Regions from separate parts of the Homo sapiens genome. Here region 2 is linked to region 1. The links come from fine-mapping of genetic effects on gene expression. A gene starts in region 1. The other region holds a variant in brackets. All regions are shown on one strand. Distances are from middle to middle. Region 1 holds the start of SEC31A (SEC31 homolog A, COPII component). Region 2 overlaps SEC31A (SEC31 homolog A, COPII component).

Region 1 (8,337 bases):
ATCTATAGCACGGCAATTAAGAGCATGGGGTCTAGGGCAGACACCCTCAGTTTAAATTCCAGCTTCACTATGTCCACCTCTGACTTTAATCATGTCGCTTTATCCATGTATGTCCTGGCTCCTCTCTCATTAAAATAAGGAGAACAGTATCTATACTACAGGGTTGTTGTGAGAAATAAGTGGTATTACTCAGAGTGGTTAGAACAGTGCCTGGCATATATAAACAAATGCTCATAAATGACAGTTATTACAAACATCACTACTTAAAACGTCTACCACCACGAAACTTCAAAAATACATCTATTAGGCCGGGCGCGGTGGCTCACGCCTGTAATCCCAGCACTTTGGGAGGTCGAGGCGGGCGGATCACGAGGTCAGGAGATCGAGACCACGGTGAAACCCCGTCTCTACTAAAAATACAAAAAATTAGCCGGGCGCAGTGGCGGGCGCCTGTAGTCCCAGCTACTCGGGAGGCTGAGGCAGGAGAATGGCGTGAACCCGGGAGGCAGAGCTTGCAGTAAGCTGAGATCATGCGACTGCACTCCAGCCTGGGTGACAGAGCAAGACTCTGTCTCAAAACAAACAAACAAACAAACAAACAACAACAAAAAAAACATCTATTAGCCAGGCGCAGTGGCTCATGCCTGTAATCCCAGCACTTTGGGAGGCCGAGGTGGGCAGATCACTTGAGGCCGGAAGTTCGGGACCAGCCTGGCCAACATGGCGAAACCCCGTCTCCACTAAAAAATACAAAAACTAGCCGGGCGTGGTGGTGTGTACCTGTAATCCCAGCTACTCAGGAGGCCGAGGCAGAAGAATCGCTTGAACCCGGGAGGCAGAGGTTGCAGTAAGCCTGGGAGACAGAGCGAGACTCCGTCTCAAAAAAAAAAAAAAAAAAAAAAACACACAAAAAACATATATATATATACACACAGACACGGCCAGGCGCAGTGGCTCACACCTGTAATCCCAGCACTTTGGAAGGCCGAGGCGGGCGGATCACGAGGTCAAGACATCCAGATCATCCTGGCCAACCTGGTGAAACCCTGTCTCTACTAAAAATACAAAAATTAGCTGCGCGTGATGGCGCGGCCAGTAGTCCCCGCTACTCGGGAGACTGAGGGAGGAGAATCGCTTGAACCCAGGTGACGGAGTTTGCAGTGAGCCGAGATCGCGCCAATGTACTCCAGCCTGGGTGACAGAGCGAGGCTCTGCCTCAGAAAAAAATAAAAAAAAAAAAAAATTTCTTGAGGAAAATTTATATTCTAGACTAGAACTCTTTATTTTTCATGCAACTTTCTCTCAATAATTGCATTCAATTAGGTGGAAACTTTTTTATTTCTGCTCATTTTCAAAGTGTAAATTTTGTGAAGCAATACTAAAACCCACCAGCACTGTTCTTTGAAAAATACCAACCTTGCAATGCTATATACAGAGCTGATCCATAACTCAGAAAGCAAGTAAAAAGTTAAAGAGGTAATAGAATTGGAACTTGGATTCCCAAACCAGGTATACAATCCCTAGTTGGCACTGCTTTCAGTAAAAATCCATTTTCTGCAGGCAAAATATCTCAATATGGATAGAAACAATTGTTTAGAGGATTTATTTAGTATTTTCAATGTTCTAGGTTCATTTCACTCAACCCAAACCAAATCAAAGGAGAAAGCAACTGTGCACTGGTTACTGAACTAATTGGTGTCATACTAATCTTCAGTATAATAAAACTTTTTGAGCTGAAATTAACCTAATGACATTCCTAACAACAATGTAATCAATGTAAATCAATCTAGTAATATCCCCTTACAGGAGTTTTTAACTTGTAAACTTCATAATATTATGTATATAGAAAATCCTACATGTCACTTGAAAGCAGGAGCTTGAGTCCAGCCTGGGGAACGCAGTGAGACCCCCATCTCTATAAAAAATAAGATTAGTTGGGCGTGCGCCACGTGCATATTCCTAGCTACTTCTGAGGCTGAGGCGGGAGGATCTCTTGAGCCCAAAAGTTCAAGGTTATAGTGAGCTATGACTGCACCACTGCACTCCAATCTGGGCAACAAAGAGGGACCCTGTCTCAAAAAAAAAAAAAAAGTAAAAGAAAAAAAAAGAAAATCCTACATGTGTGTATATGTGCATTCTTCCAATGCTTTCATTAGATTCCCGTAAGACAGTGAAATCCCCCCAAAATTTTGAATCATTGCTCTTCACAGTTTACAAATTTATTTCTATTCCCATGTTATTGGTTTCAATAAAGAATTTGCTTATATAAAATTAAGCAATATCATTATAAATCCACCTCAAATTTCAAATTTCACAAATAACCGCGGACGTATTTAAGATAAAATCACTACAAAACTACAAAAACACTACGAGTTATCCAAAAGTTCTTAAGAGTCTACAAACCTCTCCCTGAGCTGTTAATTAAGGGATAGTGAGAAACAAGGAGCACAGAAGAACCACTAAAAAAGGAGAGTAGGCTGGGCGTGGTGGCTTATGCCTGTAACCCCAGCACTTCGGGAGGCCAACTCGGGCGGATCACTTGAGGTCAGGAGTGCCAGACCAGCCTGACCAACAGCGTGAAACCCCGTCTCTACTAAAAATACAAAAATTAGACAGGTGTGGTGGTGGGCGCCTGTAATCCCAGCTACTCAGGAGGCTGAGACGGAGGTTGCAGTGAGCTGAGATCGCGCCACTGCACTCCAGCCTGGGTGACAGAGCGAGACTCCGTCTCAAAAAAAAAAAAAAAAAAAAAAAAGGAGAGTAAGCTTTTGCCAACTCTTGAATAAACGGAGGTACAGAAAACGCAGGACGCTGTAACAAGAACACACCCTTATCGATTAAATACAGTTATAACTGCCCACAAAGACAACCAAATTTCAGTTTTCTATAGTTAGAAAAAATAAGTTAGGAGAAAGGATTTGTCACAGACTATCAGATCACTGCAACTTCAAATAGCCCTACGTAAAATTAATTCCTTAAGCGCAAGAAAAAATTTATAATGCCCACAAGTCCAGGCAATATTTTGGTTTATTTTACAACAGCCCCGTAATTTAACAACTTATTAGCAAAAACATGTAACACTTAATGAGACTGCCCTCAAAGTACAGGCTGCGCCTGGCTACCACCGTCCTTAAAATAATCCTAGTTAAATGACAGTAGACGTCAGTTCAAACCTATGAACCTTTAAATCTGGCAATAGTTCAAGTACAAAAAAAAATCCTAACCAAAGCCAAAGTAATCCTGAGATTTTTTTTCCTCTCCTCACCCTCGGGGACCGCACCTCTTTGTGCACAAGGGTCTGAAAGTCTCCTAATCTCAAACTCCAGTTACCAGCCCGGCTACTACTCCCCGGCAAGACACTGTCGCCAGCCTCGGGTGGCTTTTGCTCAGCAGTGGAGACGTCGGCGAATGCGGACGGGCGCGATCACTGGAGTCCAGATGCCAGGCGTTGTTCCGCCGGGCCCGAAACCAAGACTAGGGGCGCGCCGTCACCAGAGACCGGGCCTCAGGCTGGTGCGGGGCAGCGGAGACCCAGGCTGCGGTCCCAGTTTTGGCCTGGGCTCTACCTCAAAGCTTAAGGACCGGCGAAGAGGACAAAAAGCAACGGGCGGACGCACCTGGCGAGGACCTTCGGCAGCCGGATCCTGCGTTAGTGCAGCGCTCGTCGGACTCTCCCAGCATTCGCCGCCGCCCCTCCTCCCCGGCCAGGGCCACCTCCACGTTCCGTTCCAACGTGGCAGCCGCAGCCGCAGCCACGCCCTGCGCCCAACACTTCCGGGAGCGACATCTTTCCCCGCCCACCCGACGCACAGCCCGCCACGGCACTTCCGGGACCGGCGGTAGCCTGGGAGGCGGGGTACGGCTCCGCTGGTTGGTGGCGCTCTGCGGTCATCGCGCCCCGGCGATCGTAGAAACCCTTTTCTGAGGGGCGGCGCGCAGAATGTGGATGGGGTAGCCAGGACTAGTGGGTAAAGGACTAGTGCAGAGGGTGTCCCCGTCTGGCCGAATAACCGCCGTGGCCCGCAGGAACGCCACGTAGCACTAGTCCTGTGAGGCGTCGGCAGCCCCTGGCGACACTGCCCGCGCCAAACCAGGTGGAAAATCGGGCTGCAAGGGCTTTATTGTAATTTGTGACTGAGTTCTTAAAATTACCCACTTGATTGCACATTCTGGCGTTTTGAGAACTTATACAAAGTGAAACAATCTGGGCATTCCCAAAGGCTATTGTGGACAAAGAGGTATAGATGGGGTGTTATATTAATTCCAATTAGTACCGTTTCATACTTGTTACTATCCCATGGTATTGAGACCCGGTAGCACTCACCTTCTGCCACTGTTTCTCCACAACCTCAAATCTAATTAGATGCGTTGCCTAAGTGTACTTTTAGTTTAGGGAGGAATTATTTTACAGCAAGGTGAAGCCAAAGGAAAATCACTTGCTAAATTACCAGAAATTGGATTCAACCCAGATCTCCTAACTTCTAGACAAGTTCTTTTCTCATTACATCTAGCATTCAAAGCCAACTCTTGCACTTTGGGTAGCTAAAGCAGAAGGATCCTGCCCCTTGAACAGCAGCAGTGTTAACATTCCCACAGTCAGCTACATCTTCTGTAACATTCCATCTGAAGCTTGCAGCTTCATAAGACAGCTTAACATCAATTCACGCCAACTTCTGAAATAATGAACCCAACTTTTACTGGTAGTAATATATTCTCTTTCAGTCTTCTAATTACCATTTTCTTTCAACGCAGTAACTAAGGTTATCACTTTGGCCTGAATGCTAGTCAAACTGATTGGGATTTGTTTTTGATTAGTCTTCAATTCAAACAAGTAAATGCTCCATTTCAACCGCAAGCAGCTTTCTGTTCCTAGTGCAATTAAAACTGAAAGACGTTGAAGCAACTTTACCTTTTTACATTTATCAGACTTTTTCAATAGGCTTGTATTACAGCTTCATGCAGGTCTGGGTCTCAACCTATCTTTGCTTTGCTGTCACCACTTTCAAATCTAATCACATCCAATTTCACTTCCAGCATTATCACTTTTCTTTGCTGCTCTGTCCTTTGTTGACCAATTACCTCTTTTAATTATCCATTTTTATAAATGGTCACAAGTTTAATCTCTGGGGTCAAGGAGGCAACAGTACTATGCACTTTGTGCTCTGCTATCTGTGCATGAACTAAACAGATGATCAGTAACAAATCAACAAACTTTGAAAGCAAAGTAATGTAACTGGCGACTGATCATGATGCACATCTTTTTTTTGGGGGGGGGGGCACAATGATTTGTGGACTAAAGAGCTAGCAGCAAAATTTATGCAAGTTTTCTCAGTACTGTGGTAATGGAATTATTAACCACATTGTTGGACTGGTTTTATTTAACTGTGGTCACTGGTATTTATGCATATTGGAACTGTGCAAAGACTGCCTGTATCTAAAAAAAGAAAAACTCTTTAGTTCACAAAACTAAATCCAATTTAGTTAACTACTATCCAAGCCTAATCCTGAATCAAATAAAAACTGAATTGCTCACTAGAAGAATGTTTGGAGAGAATTTAATGACAAATTTTTCAAATTAGGATTTGCATAGCACAAAGATATTCTAGGTTTTTTTAGAGACAGGTTTTTGCTGTGTTGCCCAGGCTGGAGTGTGGTGGCAATGATCACAGCGCGCTGCAGCTTCAACATCCAGGGCGCAAGTGATCCTCCCACCTCAGCCTCCCAAGTAGCTAGGACTACAGGCACACAACACCATGCCTGGTTAATTATTTTATTTTCTGTAGACACAGGGACTCATTTTGTTGCCCATACTGGTCTGGAACTCCTGGCCTCCAGGGATCCTTCTGCTTTAGCCACCCAAAGTGCAAGGATTATAGGCATGAGCCTCCATGCCCATTTGACATTCTTTTGGGAATTCAGATCCCTTCCCCTCATTTCAACAGTCTTGATGTCTGCAAAGAGTGAAGTTGTAGACAAAACAATCATCACAAGATACATGAATGTTTATGTAACTTTTTCCATAGCAGCCAGTACTATGCTTACACCTCAGTAAAACAGTAGCATCCATTTCATTGTTTTAGTTTGTTTCTGAATGCATTTATTTCACAAATTTGTTTAAGGGCTATAAACAAAATTTGTATCAACTTGTTTGTATATATTTACAAAACAGAAAATTAAGTCAGCATTAAGTCAACATGAGTAGTCACAGAATTTTTCCCCTTTATAAATGGTACATATTCAAGGAGACTTCAAAAAGTTTGTGGAAAAATGGTTAAAAGATAAAAAATATAAACTATATTTTTGAACATTAGCTCTATAGCATTCAAGACACTTTTGTAAGTGATGATACCAGCTATTTAGTCCATCCCTAAAGAACTGAGAGTTCTGGGAATTTATCTACATCAATGCAGTTTCTTTATACATTAACTTGAGAAAAATGTACTGCCCTGAAAAATTTTTTTAAGATTAGGAAACAAAAAGTCAGAAGGTGCCAAACCAGGACTGTAGGGTGGATGCCTAGTGATTTCCCATCAAAACTCTTGCAAAATGGCCTTGTTTGATGAGAGGGATGAGCAGGAACATTGTTGTGGTGAAGAACTCTCTGGTCTTTCTCGGGGATTTTTCTGCTGAAGCTTTGGCTAAGTTTCTCAAAACACTCCCATGATAAGCACGTTACCATTCTTTGGCCCTACAGAAAGTCAACAAGCAAAATGCCTTGAGCATTCAAAAGCTGTTGCCATGACCTTTGCTCTCAACCAGTCCTCTTGTGCTTTAACTGAACTACTTATCTTGGTAACCACTGCTTTGTGTTTTGTCTTCAGGATTGCGCTGGTAAAGCCATGTTTCATCTCCTGTTACAATTTTTCAATGAAAGGCTTCAAGATCCTGATCCCACTTATTTAAAATTTCCATTGAAAGCTCTATTCTTGTCTGTAGCTGATCTGGGTGCAATGGTTTTGGTACCTATCAGGTATAAAGTTTGCTGAACTTTTCCAGTCAAAATTGTGTAAGGTGAACCAACTGAGATGTCTATGGTGTTGGCTGTTGTTTCTGCTGTTAATTGTTGGTTTTCTTCAATTACGCCATGAACTAACTTTTTTCTCACAAACTGATGTGGATGATCTGCCACTGTGGGCTTCTTCTTCAACATTACCTTATGCCTTCTTAAAACGAGTTATCCATTTGTAAACTGATTTCTTTGGAGCACTGTCCCTATCAACTTTTCATAAAGCATCAATTAGTTCACCATTCTTCCACCCAAGTGTCAACATATATTTGATGTTTGTTCTTGCTTCAATTTTAGCAGAATTCGTGTTGTTCTGATAGAGCCTCTTTTCAAACTGATGTCTTATTCTTCTTAGTGCTTCAAACTAGATCCTGTTCAGACATGTTATAACAAGTTAGTAGGAGTTTATTTTGGTCCAAAAATTTTGAAATCCATGCATAGTTTTTTCATGATATGCATTTTCCATGCACTTTTTCAAGACCCCTCATATTTTCTTAAATTTGAGAAACAACTACAATAACAAGCCTAATTCATGACAGAACTAGTATTAGATTTAAGATTCCCAGTTTCCTATCACCTTCTTTTCTACTGTTCCTGAACAGATCCTTAAGTTATAGGCTAGTCATCCTTGGCATATCTAACAGTCATTTGTAAACCCTGGATCTTTAAGAATATCAGGTGCTGAAAAGATTATATCATTATTTCTAAGAAAAGATAACCAACAGCCAGGTGTGGTGGCTTATGACTATAATCCCAGCACTTTGGGAGGCTGAGGTTGGTGGCTGGAAGTTTGAGACCAGTCTGGCCAACATGGCAAAACATGGTCTCTACTTAATAAAAAAAATTAGCTGGGTGTGGTGGCATGCGCCTCTAATCCCAGCCACTTGGGAAGCTGGGCCACAATAACTATTTGAACCCAGGAGGCAGAGATTGCAGTGAGCAGAGATTGCGCCGCTGCACTCCAGCCTGGGCAACAGAGTGAGACTGTCAAAGTTAAAAGCTCCACCCCCTCCAATGCCTTTCCTGAATTGAATCTATTAATTAAAAAAATACTATTTTGAAATAATACTTATCTTTAAAAGCTGGAAGAGTAAGGAAAAGAAATTTTTAATTCAGAGTACAGTATCCACATTAGGCTGAAATAAATGTCAATTTTCTGCTCATACCTGACCTTTTCTGTGTTCTTTTATCAAAATAAATGTGTAAGTCCCATACCTTATTATATAAATCTTCAACTTCTTGATCAAATAAATATGACAAATGATGTTCTCTAAGAAAAACACCCTTCAATTTTATTCCTAAAACGAAAAACATTCAAAGGAACTCATTGT
Region 2 (8,337 bases), 35 kb before region 1:
ATAGTCCCCACATTTTCTACTTCCTCTCTTGCTTGTGTATTGGTGTCACATGGCAGTGGTCCCCAACCTATTTGGCACCAGGGACTGGTTTCGTGGAAGACAATTTTTCCACAGGCCAGCAGGGGGGATGGTTTCAGGATAAAACTGTTCCACCTGGCCTGTTCCATAAGGTATTAGATTCTGATAAGGAGGATACAACCTAGATCCGTTGCATGCACAGCCCACATAAGGGTTCGTGCTCCCACGAGAATCTAATGCCACCACTGATGTGAAAGGAAGCAGAGCTCAGGCAATAATGCTCGTTCACCCACTGCTCACCTCTTGCTGTGAGTCCAGGTTCCTAAGAGGCCACAGAAGGGTACTGGTTTATGGCCTGGGGGTTGGGGACCTCTGCTACATGGGATTCCATTTACCTCTCACTTTCATTTTCCTTTAACCATAAAGATTCTCTACTGGCATTGGGGATGCCTCCTATTCCTTTACCCACATTGCTTCTTTCTTTGCTCATGGCAGGCAGAGCCACTGGAAGCAGACAGAGGAGCACACAGAAAAAGAGGTAAACCCTAGAGCTGTTTTCAATCCTCCTGCCACCTATTTCCCCCAATAAACTCACAAATCACAACCATGATTTTACAACAGCTGCAACCCCATTTTCCTATCCTATCATCTCAAACTTTGCTTCTTCAAAGATAGCAATAAATGCATATAATTATCCAGCAAAAGAAGTTCTTGAATGTATAGAAAAAATGAACTTATAGATTATAACTTGATGATAAGTAGGGTGAAAGACAACACTAAAAATTAAGTGCCTTTTGTTTCAAAGATACTACCTGAAGTGACAAAGGGTGGCTTCCATCTTGAGCTTTAGTCCAACATGCAACTAATTTCTCTACATTCCCTGCACAAATATAGCAGAGACATGCTTGAGTCTGCAGGAGGCTATCTCCTTCATTTTCAAGCCTGGTTCCCAAAAGATCTGTAAGTAAGAGGAAAATAAAATAAGATTATACCCAAGGCAATCTGTATATGAGGCTGTGAGCAGCTAAATAATATTTTCAGAGGCATGGATTAAGCTTCATAACCAATGAATAGCATAGAGAAACAAAATCACTCTAAATGCTCAGTAAATATGCATTTGTTAAATGAATGGGAATGAAAAATTGTATACAATAAATGATTTTACAAAACTATTATCTAACTGTACAACTAATTTTTATTAATTAAATTAGAAAAACAATAAATGGGAACAACATTTGAACAAAAAAACCCTAAAGGCACATTTGGAATAGATTTATCAATGTTAGCTAAGTCTAGTATAAATTACTTATAAAAATGCAGTTATGGCTGGGCATGGTGGCTCACGTCTGTAATCCCAGCAGTTTGGGAGGCTGAGACGGGCAGATCAGCAGAGGTCAGGAGTTCAAGACCAGCCTGGCCAACATGGTGAAACCCTGTCTCTACGAAAAATGCAAAACTAGCCAGGCATGGTGGTGCATGCCTATAATCCCAGCTACTTGGGAGGTTGAGGCAGGAGAATCACTTGAACGCAGGGGGTGGAGGTTGCAGTGAGCCAAGATTGTGCCATCGCACTCCAGCCTGGGCAATAAGAGCAAAACTCCGTCTCCAAAAAAAAAAAAAAAAGCAGTTAGTATTTTGTAATTTTTATATTCTTATAATTATTTCAAGGCAGCAAATGGCTATTTGTTTTTATACTAGTAGCCTTAAGCTTTTCTTGCAAATATTTATTCCTTGGCCACCAGTTTAGTCATGGCCTATAATGGTAATTTCTATTCTAATGTTATTATTAATTTTATCATAGCTAATATTTATTAAGTGAGAGTTACTTATGGTCTATTTCACAGATGAATAAACTGAGGCTTAGAAAGTAGTTCTTCCTAGATCATACAGCTACTAAGTAGCAGAGGCAAGATTCCAACTCTTGTCTGTCTGAAACCAAAATCACTAGTAGATTTAAAAAAAAAAAAAAAAGAGTAGGTATGAAGACGTATTTAATAAATCTGAGAAAGGCACTGAAATGAGAATTTTTCTTTTTTGTGATTTGTAGATTTTAAAAAGTTTCTAATAAAATTTGTCATTTAAGTTTATTTACAATATACCCTGCCACGTATGTAAATGCAGTTAAATATAAAGCACATCTCTTACCACAAAGGGCTGAAAATTCATCCGGCTTTGCATAAGTCAATACTGCAGCTAAAGCCTCTCTCCAATTTTTAAGATCACAAGACTCAACAATCTCTTTCCAGTTCTTCATCACCACTGCAGTGATGAGCTTGAGAAACGAAAACAAAGGAAGAATTAAAAGTCTTTAACATAGCAATAAAAATTAATTCTGACTAATTAATTGTGTCAAGTATTTCATGCCAAATGCAGCAGCAAAATGAAGTATAATTTTGAATCAAATGACATAATAATGGTATTATTGTTCCTCAAGAAACAACAGCAACAACAAAAACAACTGACAACATATTTCATAAAGTGCTGAGAAGGAAAAATATAAGGTGCTATCAGAACCTTTAATAGAAAGGTGTGACCTGGTCAGATGGATCAGGAAAAACTGCCCAAGCATGTAGACTTTTGACACGTGATCTGAAGGACAAGCAGGAATTAACTTCATCAAGAAGGAAAAAGCCTTCCAGGCCAAGGGAACGACAGATGCAAAGTTCCAGTGAGAAAGGAACATGCAATGAGTGAGGGAGGAACTACAAGGCAGCCACTGTGGCTAAAAGATAACCGAGGAGAGACTGAGATGAGATGAGGCTAATGGGACTCAATACTGGTACAACTTTTATGAAAACTAATTTCAATAAAAATTACTTTTTTTATGATGTAGAAATAACACCAAGTAACCACAAAAAAGAATGAGATCGTGTCCTTTGCAGGGACATGGATGGAGCTGGAAGCCATTATCCTTAGCAAAATAACACAGGAACAGAAAACCAAATACCGCATGTTCTCACTTACAAATAGGAGCTAAATGATGAGAACATGTGAACACATGGAGGGGAACAACACACACTGGGGCCTATTGGAGGGTGGGAGGAGAGAGAGAATCAGAAAAAATGATTAATGGGTCCAAGGCTTAATACCTGAGTGATGAAATAATCTGTACAACAAACCCCTATGACACGAGTTTACTCTTAAGTTTGTTAGATATAACAAACCTGCACATGTACCTCTGAACTTAAAATAAAAGTTAAATTCCTCTTCTATGACTACAGTTCAATTTAAATAATCAGAAATTTGTACAAGTCTTTAGGCACAACAAAGGTGTTTATCACTATATAAACAAGCGTGTTTATTTCTATTTGGAAAATACTGGAAACTACCTAAACATAACAAAATAAGGGAAACATTACATCTTCTTACCATGAAATATTATAGAGCAATTAAAATTTTGGGTTTTTTTTTGAGACAGAGTCTTGCACTGTTGCCCGGGCTGGAGTGCAATGGCGTGATCTCGGCTCACCGCATCCTCTGCCTCCAAGGTTCAAGCGATTCTCCTGCTTCAGCCTCCCTAGTAGCTGGGATTACAGGTGCCCACCACCACATCCGGTTAATTTTTTGTATTTTTAGTAGAGATGGGGTTTCACCATGTTGCCAGGCTGGTCTTGAACTCCTGACCTCGTGACCCCCCCACCTCTGCCTCCCAAAGTGCTGAGATCACAGGCGTGAGCCACTGCGCCCAGCCGCAATTAAAAAATTTAATAAGGCCAGGCACGGTGGCTTATGCCTGTAATCCTGGCACTTTGGGAGACCGAGGTGGGCGGATGACCTGAGGTCAGGAGTTCGAGACCAGCCTGACCAACATGGTGAAACCCCATCTCTACTAAAAATACAAAAATTATCTAAGCATGGTGGCGGACGCCTGTAATCCCAGCTACTTGGGAGGCTGAGGTAGGAGAATCGCTTGAACCCAGAAGGTGGAGGTTGCAGTGAGTCAAGATCACGCCACCGGACTCTAGCTGGGGTGACAGAGCAAGACCCCGTCTTTAAAATTATTAATATATACAAAAACAACAAAACTAGAATAATCATGCCAAAATGCCAACAACTATTTCCAGGTCAAGGAATTATGAATGAGCTTTTAAAATTCTTTACTGGTTTCTGCATTTCAGTTATCTATAATAACAGTGTATTGTTTTTATAATTAGAAAGATAAATACGTTATTGCTTATTTTTAAAATAACATACCCTGGTAATTTTGCTTTGGGATTTTGCGAAGTATTTTTTCTGGGTTCGAGCCAAGAGTTCTTGTCCACCTGCTATGGCCAATATAATGGCATCGGCCATGCGGTTATCATGTAAACAAAGGTCAACAGCACTCTCAAAATTGCCCGTCAGCAAAGCCTGAGTAATTAAACCATCAATGTCTGCAACAAGAAAATAATACATCCAAGTTAAATAGAGTTTTTGTTACCAAAACCAACAACAAAGTACTACATCTATCAATTTTTATATATATACATGAATGGAGACCACAACACTAATTTCTGATTACTAGTGGATTAATTTCTAACACAAGCTATTGGTATTTATGGAAGAGGTCTACAGAAATATGCTGAGATAAATACAAAATAATACATTTTCCAGATGCTTTAACTGGATTATCAAAGATCACCTAGGTGTCTGAACACACCAGCCTTCCCAAGGCACTGATCACATATACTGTACTAAAGGAAAAGTGAGTTCTTTCTCACACTCTACCACCTGTGATAAAACTTTTTTTTTTGAGACAGCGTTTCACTATGTTGTCCAGGATAGCCTCAAACTCCTGGGCCCAAGTGA[T/A]CCTCCTGCCTCAACTTCCCAAGTAGCTGGGACTATAAGCATGCACCACAGCACCTGACTTGAAGCATTTTAACTTAAATGCAGGAACTATTTGTTTTCCAATGGTTAAAAAAAATTAGAAATCAAAACCAACAAGTACTTACCCCCACTGACAGAGATATTAAATGTTCCTCCAGATGAGGGTAGAAATTCAGATTCTTCTTTTTCCTCTTTAATGTGCTAAAGAGATGAAAAAAGCAACAATTTAGCCAGAATAAAACTGTGGAATGATTTACTGACAAAAAAAATTTACACATGATTCTTCATCTACAGAGTAGATGACATACCAAGTTATTCCAGAAAAGTTCTCAGATCCAAATTTACAACTAAGATCTATGCCTTCCCTAAATATTACCTCCCATTATATAATCATAAATAAAATCCAAGGTCATGAAGAATACTGGTTAAACAGGCTGGGCACAGTGGCTCACGTCTGTAATCTCAGCACTTTAGGAGGCCAAGGCAGGCAGATCACTCGAGGTCAGAAGCTCGGGACCAGCCATGCCCAACATGGTGAAACCCCATATCTACTAAAAATACAAAACTAGCCGGGCATGGTGGTGCGTGCCTGTAATCCCAGCACTTTGGGAGGCTGAGGTGGGCGGATCACAAGGTCAGGAGATCAAGACCATTCTGGCCAACATGGTGAAACCCCGTCTCTACTAAAATACAAAAAATTGGCCGGGTGCTGTGACTCATGCCTGTAATCACAGCACTTTGGGAGGCCGAGGCGGGCAGATCACGAGGTCGGGAGATCGAGACCATCCTGGCCAACATGGTGAAACCCCGTCTCTACTAAAAATACAAAAATTAGCTGGCGGCAGTGGTGTGCACCTGTAGCCCCACCTACTCGGGAGGCTGAGGCAGGAGAATCACTTGAACCCAGGAGGCGGAGGTTGCAGTGAGTTGAGATTGCGCCACTGCACTCCAGCCTGGCGACAGAGCGAGACTCTGTCTCAAAAAAAAAAAAAAAAAAAAAAAAAAAAGAACACTATTAAATAAACTAACATGTACATATTCATTACTGGTATCTCAGTAATGAGGCTGAAGAATCTTTGTTTTCTTAGGTAACTATGAGTGGCTCAAAATATGGAAAATATATTATTTATTTATTTATTTATTTAATTTTATTTTTTGAGACAGAGTCTCACTCTGTCACCCAGGCTGGAGTGCAGTGGCGCACTCTCGGCTCACTGCAAACTCTGCCTCCTGGGTTCACGCCATTTTCCTGCCTCAGCCTCCCGAGTAGCTGGGACTACAGGTGCCCACCACCATGCCTGGCTAATTTTTGTATTTTTAGTAGAGACGGGGTTTCACTGTGTTAGCCAGGATGGTCTCGATCTCCTGACCTCATGATCCGCCCTCCTTGGCCTCCCAAAGTGCTGGGATTACAGGCGTGAGCCACCACGCCAGGCCGGAAAATATATTTTTAAATTATACTATTTTTAAATTTTAAAACAAACCTACTTTTACACATCTAAGAATTCCTGTCCACTGGATTTGATTATAAAGTGTTTTTGTTTTTAACTGAATCATAAAAAAAAATGAAAAAAAAATCACATGGTACCCATAACATAAAAGTAATATAAGTACATTATTTATTAATACACTTAAATTCAAGTATACATTTTGTGTTTACTCAAATTAGTCATACCTGGAACAGTGGGTTAGTCTGGTAAAAATATACACAGTTCTGTTATAAATTTCTGAGACTACCTGCAAGACTGATTAAAAATAAACTCAATGCTTTCTTTAGAAGAAATATAATGGGGGCATTTTGCTGGCAAATAATTTTAAATGCTTTCTCTCCCATGCATAAAAATTCAAAATAAGACAAAAATATATCAGAGATTAGAGATAAATTTTTAAAGAAAAACAAAGCTTTCTTACATGAGATGAAATATCTGTCTTCTGTGCTATGTTATCTACACATCTGAATGTAAATATCTAGTATTCAAGTTCAGTGGCATTTTAGAACTGGGTAATTTTAATGCAGAGTACAGCACTGCACCATCTGCAAATACACTTAATTATTAATGTTGACTATTACAGGAGAATATCTATAACCCTAATTCCCTTTCCCCAACTAAAGAGAAGCATTTGGAATTTAAAAACTAAAAGAAATTAAGAATTTAAGTTATTCACATTAAGGAATAAATCAGAGACACTGATCTAATTACATTCATTAACAAACTTGCATAAAAATATTTTTTTTTTTTTTTTTTGAGACAGGGTCTCGCTCTGTCGCCCAGGCTGGAGTGCAGTGGCGCATTCTCAGCTCACTGCAAGCTCCACCTCCTGGGTTCATGCCATTCTCCTGCCTCAGCCTCCCAAGTAGCTGGGACTACAGGCGCCCCACCACAACGCCTGGCTAAATTTTTGTATTTTCAGTAGAGGTGGTGTTTCACCGTGTTAGCCAGGATGGTCTTAATCTCCTGACCTCGTGATCTGCCCGCCTCGGCCTCCCAAAGTGCTGGGATTACAGGCATGAGCCACTGCGCCTGGCCACTTTTCTTTTTTTTAACTCATTATTTCTCAAATTTGCTTTCTAGAAACAATTTATCCTTATTTATGGACTTCTGAACGAGATATAAGGTCAAAAAATGCACAATTTATTAGGTATTGAGTGCCTTCAATGTGTAAGCTACTATGAAACAAATAGCTCATTGAGACAAAGGGGAAGATTTTACCTCCTTAAACACATTTTTTCAAAGAACCAAAAGTACACATTGATGACTACTATTTCATTAAATGCATATATTTCTTACCTATTATTCATGAGTGCATTCCCAAATGATCTTCTATTTGATAATACATAGTCTAGTTGTACATAAATGAAAGTACATTTCTCTATGTATCTTACAATTCTGTCTAAATATTCTCAAAATTAGTTCTTTTCTTTTTTAAATCAGACAGGGTCTTGCTCTGTCACCCAGGCTGGAATGCAATGGTGTGATCATAGCTCACTCCAACCACGAACTCTTGGGCTTAAGTGATCCTACCTCAGCCTCCCAAATAGCTAGGACTACAGGCATGTGCCACCACGCCTGGCTAATTTTTTATTTTTTTTTTTAGAGATAGGGTCTCACTATGTTGTCCAGGCTAGTCTTGAACTCATAGCCTCAAGTGATCCTCCCACCTTGGCCTCCCAAAGTGCTGGGATTACAGGCATAAGCAAACATCATGCCTGGCCTAGTTCAAAGTTTTAGTAAAGATTTTATCCATATCCTTTATTCCCTTGTTAATTAAACTCTAGGAGATCCACTTCTAAGGAGAATGATTTTTGCAATCATCTTGTAATAGACTAAATTTACTTATTTTTATAACTTAGTAAAAAATTATACATAACATTCCATAGTCAAGATATCACAAAGAACAATGAAAAAGCCAAAGATGAGATGAGAAGAACTTGTTGATTAATTTTCCAAGATGAAATAAAATTAGAAAGCAAGAAAAGTAAATTACAGATTTGTTCATTAGTGGTTAAAAAAA

The links. PIP is the estimated chance that this variant, and not a neighbour inherited with it, causes the effect. A credible set is the group of variants that fine-mapping cannot tell apart.
Region 2: its variant is the best candidate, but not a certain one, in a credible set for the expression of SEC31A in whole blood (INTERVAL, PIP 0.81).

Annotation. Positions count from the first base shown.
Region 1 is chr4:82,887,471-82,895,807 of GRCh38, forward strand. SEC31A (SEC31 homolog A, COPII component) reads right to left here and starts at 3,683. Exons shown (of 27, transcript NM_001077207.4): 1 at 3,618-3,683. THAP9-AS1 (THAP9 antisense RNA 1) reads right to left here. Exons shown (of 4, transcript NR_034077.1): 3 at 8,222-8,304; 4 at 5,982-7,377.
Region 2 is chr4:82,852,740-82,861,076 of GRCh38, forward strand. SEC31A (SEC31 homolog A, COPII component) reads right to left here. Exons shown (of 27, transcript NM_001077207.4): 15 at 4,950-5,025; 16 at 4,213-4,391; 17 at 2,164-2,290; 18 at 831-976. Among named protein-coding and RNA genes, the nearest start is that of SEC31A, 34 kb to the right of the region's middle. The variant T/A (reference allele first, on the strand shown) is at 4,807.